Homo sapiens: one gene and its partner. The protein of the gene in region 2 purifies or fractionates together with the protein of the main gene of each other region. This does not show direct contact. Each region holds a gene or a part of one and is shown on either strand. Other genes may lie near its edges.

The links.
Region 1: the proteins of FYTTD1 (region 2) and XRCC4 purify together in Homo sapiens (affinity purification with mass spectrometry; 2 studies listed by BioGRID and IntAct, with this or other methods). This does not show direct contact.

Annotation. Positions count from the first base shown.
Region 1 is NC_000005.10:83,350,047-83,353,546, reverse strand, and holds part of XRCC4 (DNA repair protein XRCC4), read right to left. Parts: intron 423-3,500; coding exon of another isoform or gene 417-422; coding exon 305-416; 3' UTR 1-304.
Region 2 is NC_000003.12:197,780,883-197,784,382, reverse strand, and holds part of FYTTD1 (UAP56-interacting factor), read right to left. Parts: intron 2,573-3,500; coding exon 2,474-2,572; 3' UTR 1-2,473. UniProt on the Homo sapiens protein: Required for mRNA export from the nucleus to the cytoplasm. Acts as an adapter that uses the DDX39B/UAP56-NFX1 pathway to ensure efficient mRNA export and delivering to the nuclear pore.

The sequences.
Region 1 (3,500 bases), on a different chromosome or scaffold from region 2:
ATCACATATAATATGTGTGAATGAATATGATAAATGTGTCCTTTGCAACAAAAAGTCTCATACAATTTATGTAATTATAGGCATGCTGAATGAATAGTTTAGAATAATGTGCCAGTGTCATCATCAAATCGTATCTTTGTATACATGTGTAATCCATTTTGCACAATGGTTTCAATTCACTGTGTATGTAATTAAATTGTAAGATACGGTAATAGCGGCTGCTGACTTGAAATTCTCCTTTTTCATTTTAAAGAAATGAATAGAAAACATAGTCTAGTGAACATCAAAGTATTTTTTGAGACTGTTAAATCTCATCAAAGAGGTCTTCTGGGCTGCTGTTTCTCAGAGTTTCTAAAGACATGTTTTCAGCTGAGATGTGCTCCTTTTTAGACGTCTCAGGTAGTGAAGAATCAGGCCTAGAACTGAAAAGAAAATCAAAATAGTTTTATTTTTAAAAACTTCTGTTATAGAGTAAAAGAAAATGAAGAGACACATAAGTGAAATGACAGTTAAATCCTGTTTCAAATTGGTTTAGAGATTTATTTCTCTATGCTATTAACTATAAGGAAAGAGATAAAGAGACTAATTTCTCTAACTGCTTTAGAATTAATGTCTCTATTCTGACCTAAGGAAAATTCAAGAACCTATAACAATACTCATAATCAAGGTCAAGAAATAAAATATTCTGTCCTCTGTGCTATAATCACTTTTATGCCAGGATATAGAAGGTTTTTCAAGTTACTCCTTTAATGATTTCATCACAATTTACATTTTACTCTGGCTTTCTTAAATTCTACTGATTAACATGCATTTTAATCTCTTAGCAGCAGAAAGTTTTGGTCACATGAATTACCTTTAGTGGGTCTGATGATCATGTGTATATATGAAAAATAATGATTTTTCACATTTATAGCAGTTGCTGATGAAATGTTGGTCCATAATCATTTATTGAATCTGCATATCTTCATTTAGTAAACTAAATTTTATTCAGGTTCAGTATTGTAGTCACTACTTCAATGGATTGACTGCTATATTTATGTAGATATTTTCTTTGAATCCTAAGATAACAGGCTGACTGCCATGATCACTATTAATTGGTCTTAGGAAGACTGTGCCAGAGAATAACAGAGCTCAATCAGAAGTAAAGCTGTGGAGTGTGTGTTAATATCCTTGTAGAAACCTTGTCAGTGGTTCTCTATGGAACCTTAATAAAGTATGCTTAATATTATCAATTAGAGGTGGCCTCTGGGGCAATTATGATTAGGTTGAGCTAACCCAGTAATACTTGGTAATACCCCTCTATTTCCAAGTTCAAAGGCGGGGGTAGAGTCACAACACCTTGGTATAGCTGAGAAAGCATGGGACTTGAAGTCAGGAAACACAAGTTTGAACCCAGGTCTATTTCATGTTAGCTATGTAACTTTAGGCAAGTCATTTAAACTAAGTGGGCTTCTATTCTGTCCACTGTAAAACTGAGATATTAGTATTTGTCTAGAGGTGGTCTAAAGATGAAATGAGTTGATGTAAATGTAAATGCTTGTAAATTCCCACAAAGAATTTGGAAACTATTATTATTACCTGCTAATACCCCATAAACTATGTAAGAGTTTCGTTAACAGCAGAGAAGAATAACCAATGAAAACCCCCAAATATCAAGTGTGTTTAGGTGATGAGTATTTTTAAAAGCCTGCACCCTTACCTAGTTGCACAGATTATTAGAAATGAGTTCTCCTTGGCATCTTGATTAGAGACAATTAACTACAGTTGGCTGCCACTAGACCTGGGACATGTTCTGTCTTATTCTGAGCAAGCCAATTTCAGACAACATCATCACAGGAGTGCCAAGGTGCTAGGCATTAATGCATTCAAGATGACAAGTACTACCCTCTGGGATTTGCGATGTTAAAATTAACAATAAATACAGGCATAATTATTGTAACATGGAATTAAATATCTAAAAATATATTCCAAAGGAGGAGAAAATGATATAGTATGGGATAAAAGTATAATTATTATATATATACATTTTCATTGTCAACTCAAAACACGTTAAACATTTTTCTCTGGCCAAAATGTCTTAGAGTTGCTTGTGCTCCTCCTAGACAAAAGAGATAACTGAACTATCTCAATTAAAAGTAAGAAATGGAAAAACAAGCAAGGTGAATACAATAAATGGTGCATGGAAAACTGGCTAGCCATTTGCAGAAGATTGAAACTGTGCCCCTATGTATTAGTCCATTCTTGTATTGCTATAAAGAACTACCTGAGACTGGGTAATTTATAAAGAAAAGAGGTTTAATTGGCTCACAGTTCCACAGGCTGTACAGGAAACATGGCTGAGAAGCCTCACGGTAGAAGGTGAAAGGGAAGCAGGCCCGTCTTACATGGCCGGAGAAGGAGGAAGCGGGGGGTAAGATGCCACACATTTTTAAACCAGATCTCATGAGAACTCACTCACTATCATGAGAATGGCAAGGGGGAAATCTGTCTCCAGGATCCAATAACCTCCCACCAGGCCCCTTCTTCAAGATTGAGGATTACAATTAGACATGAGATTTGGGTGGGGACACCAATCCAAACCATATTGCCCTACCTTTCAACATATACAAACATTAACTCAAGATGGCTTAAAAATTTAAATGTAAGATTTCAAACTATAAAAAACTTAGAAGAAAACCTAGGAAATACCCTTCTCAACACTGTCCTTGGCAAAGAATTTTTGGCCAAGTCCCCAAAAGCAACTGCAACAAAAACAAAAATTGACAAGAGGGACCTAATTAAACTGAAGAGTTTCTACACAGCAAAAGAAACTATCAACAAAGTAAAGAGTCAGCTTACAGAATAGGAGAAAATATCCTCAAAATATGCATCTGTCAAAAGTCTAATATCCAGAATCTATATGGAACTTAAATCAACAAGCAAAAAGCAAATCACCCCATTAATAAATGGGCAAAGGACATGAACAGACACTTCTCAAGAGAAGACACACAAGCAACCAACAAACATATGAAAAAAAAATGCTACACATCACTAGTCATCAGAGAAATGCAAATCAAAGCCACAATGAGATACCATCTAACACCAATCAGAATGCCTGTTATTAAAAAGTCAAATAATAATATATGCTGGAGAGGCTGCAGAGAAAAGGGGACACTTATACATTGTTGGTGGGAATGTAAATGACTTCAGCCACAGTGGAAAGTAGTTTGGAGATTTGTCAAAGGACTTAAAACATAACTATCATCCAATCCAGCAATCCCGTTACTGGGCATATACCTCCCAAAAAACCCAAAGTGTTCTGCCAAAAAGACACATGCACTGGCATGTTCATTGCAGCACTATTCACAACAGCAAAGACATGGAATCAACCTAGGTGGCCATAATTGGTGGACTGGGTAAAGAAAATATATTACATATACACTATGGAATACTACACAGCCACCAAAAAGAATGAAATAATGTCCTTTGCAGCAACATGGATGCAGCTGGAGGCCATAATT
Region 2 (3,500 bases):
ACAAATATAGATAACCACTACAAAGTTCTTCGTAACATAGAACAATCTAAAAACCACAACTCAATCTTTAGAGCTGAGAATAAATCATGTGAAACCTGTAACATTTTATTTGTTAAAAATGAACAGCTTCAGAATAGATCTAAATGTAACTTTTCCAAAAAACACCAAAAAGTACAGTGTAAAGCACCTCCTCGTTAAATACAAACTTTCATTTGGTGATGCACGGCACCAATGTTTTGCATATACCTTGATGCAAAGAAAAGTTTAAGTTGCATCCTGTTTTTAAAAAAAACCGAAACTTAAGAACTGAACAAGGATTACAACCACATTCCAATAAAGAAAATTTTCCTTCAACAAAGCATATTGTTTTGTTTATATACAATATGTGACCACCAAGAGTTTTAATTTAGTTGTACCAAAGGCAAAACATTATACTTAAAATTAAATTACAGATGCATGAAGAATAAAAGTTTAATGTATCAAAGATAATTTGTTATTTAATGCACTCAATGTCAGTATTTGGGGCAATTTTTAAAGTTTTCCCAAAAAATGGCATGAATAGCTCTATACAATAATAGGTAAGAACAGGAAAATGAAAACACCTTTATACCATATTTTCACAAACCATTCTAAAGACAGCAAACTTGAGCTCAGCTGCTTTTCCTTGCTTTAAAATAAGCTACCAGTAATTCTAAATCAGACTAAAATGTACTGTTCCTAGACCAAATACAGGCATTCATCCTTGCAAAAATGTTTTGCAATGAGTTCTTGGCCTATATGAAAAGCATCAAATAGCTAAGGAGAGACTAGAATTTATTTCCAAATTCTGTGACTGACTTCCAATAATCCCTTATCAGTACGAGTACCAGGAAAATATCAGATATTAAAGATCAGATTTAATTCTTTGGTATAAGCATGAAACTGTTACTGATAGCTTTCCATGGCGAGCATAAACCATGAAGCAACTCAAGAAGCATGAGAGACAACAATGAAATCTAGTATACAATGCAGGGCAGGCCAAGAACGATGTCTGCTTTACAGGAAAAGTCAACACTAACAATCTACTCCTGAGAAACTAACACCTATTTAGATGTTTTTAACATAATGGCAAACTAAAATGTCAAGCTTCAAAATGACCAAACTTGTAACGTACAGCTGGAAGATTTTGCTGCATTTGGCATTATACTGTAATTTACAGTATACAACATCTGGGGACTCAGTACTATCTTAGCACAGACTAACTTCTCCCACTCCGTCAGAGGTGGCAGGTGGCGGGTCGGTGGGGAGGGCCTTTTCTCCCCATAAATGCCTGAACTTTAATTTATACCATATAAGAAATCAGTGAAAGGTAAACAACAAGGTTAATGTAACTCTATTATAAATTTTGCATTTTTTTTCTCTGTGACATATACAAGTATATTTTTGTTTTTGGAGCTATAAATTATTTAATTTAGCAATCTTCAAAGCTCATAAATTTCAACTTTTCAAATAAGAAATTTTAACTTCAAATAAGAAGTCTAGGACTTTATGGCTATTAATTTTACTATCAAAATATCCAAGGGACTCCATTCAATGTAATAGTTATAATTCTTCTAAATATCATTTGAATAATTCTTTGTGGACGCTAGACTCAAGACTATGCTACATCCAAACAGTACATCTATAACCAGGGTTTTGAAGTGTTTCATCTCAACTACCTGTCCTTCAACTTGCTACTTACTTCCTCTCATGCCTTCATTTATTAAACACAAACTGTCATTTTTTAAAACTGGACCTTCTCCTCCAAGGCCCTATCAGATAACTTTGTGAATATGCATTTACAGTCTCTAAACACCAACATTTTAAACTAAGACTAATACCTAGGGCCACATTTCCTGTTAAAAGCTCAGCACTAAAGCTGTGTAATTCCAGGGGACTTTACACCGTCTGAAAGAGGAAGCACGTTCTGGATGTCCCCCTAAGTCTTCAAACCCACAGCTGGAAATTCTAATACATTGTTCTGTGTCTCTAATGAAGAAAAGGCAACGGCACTGACTACATCAACACTATTAAAGGGCAAGTGACAGCAACCAAGGGACCTACTCATGTTTATGAAGACCAGGATTTACCATGACAAAGTCTAAAACACGGGCAAAGGTGATGAGATCCTGAATACTGCTATCATAAAAATAATCAATTTCTATCTTTCTGTCTTCCTTCTGCTGCATGAGGAACCAAAGAAGTCAAACAGATGATTGTTCTGTCTGAGCCAACCATGAAATCTTTAAGAACAGACAGGTATAATCCCTATTATTCTTTCAGGGCATTATTTTATACGTTTTTTTTTTTAAAAAAAAAAACCTTCAAAAATAAAAATAAGAGTTATTTAGCCTTGTGAATATTTTGAAGTAAAGTTTCTTGAATTTCCGTGATGAACTCTTCAAGCAATTCAACTTCTCAGAGTCATCACTCAAAAGTTCCTTTGACATGGGACCTATCCCACGGTGACAAAGCGGCTTCCCCCTTTGTTGTATGTGAGAGTGGCTCTTTGTTCCTTCAGGATCCCAAACCGCTCATTCAACGTCATCCCTGTCTAGAGAAAAGAAAAAAACAAAAACAACAACAAAGCAACAATTAACAACTTTACTGAAGGCCATATTTGCTTTGGAACAATAATGTGATCTTATGATTAATTACAAGTAATGACAGCTAAAATTTCCTAAATATTTACATGTATGACCTCATATAAAGCCTACATTATATACTATATAAAACACACATATGCTATAATGCCTAGAAGTCATACACCCAAAGCCCCTATCTGAATTATTTTCAGGCTCTGTAAACACTGCCACCAACTCATGATGTCACTGATAAAAGTAAGAACTCTTCAGACCTGTAAATATTTTATAGCAAATTTTCTTGAATTACGGTGAGTTCAACACAGAAATTCAAATCAAATTCAAATGAAAATCTGTTTTTTTTTTTATTAACAACAGCATCTACAAACTATACCATTTCTGGAAAACAATAATAGCAACAAAATAAAAATAAGCAAAACAAATTTGGTCAAAATTTTTTTTTTTTTTTTATTGAGACAGTCTGGCTGTCATCCAGGCTGGAGTGCAGTGGCACAATCTCAGCTCATTGCAACTTCCGCCTCCTGGGTTCAAGCAATTCTCCCACCTCAGCCTCCCGAGTAGCTGGGATTACAGGCACGTGCTACCACACCCGGCTAATTTTTTTATTTTTAGTGGAGACAGGGTTTTTCCATGTTGACCAGGCTGGTCTCAAACTCCTGACCCCAAGTGATCCACCTGTGTCGGCCTCCCAAAGTGCTGGGATTACAGGCGTGAGCCACCGCACCAGGCCAATTTGGTCAAATTTCTATCCATCCTTTGTATCTTCAATTTCACATTATTTCAAGGATACCAAAAAAGCATTTGACAAAATTGAATACCCATTCTTGATAAAAATTCTCAGCATATCAGGAATAGAAGGGAGCTTCCTCAATCTGACAA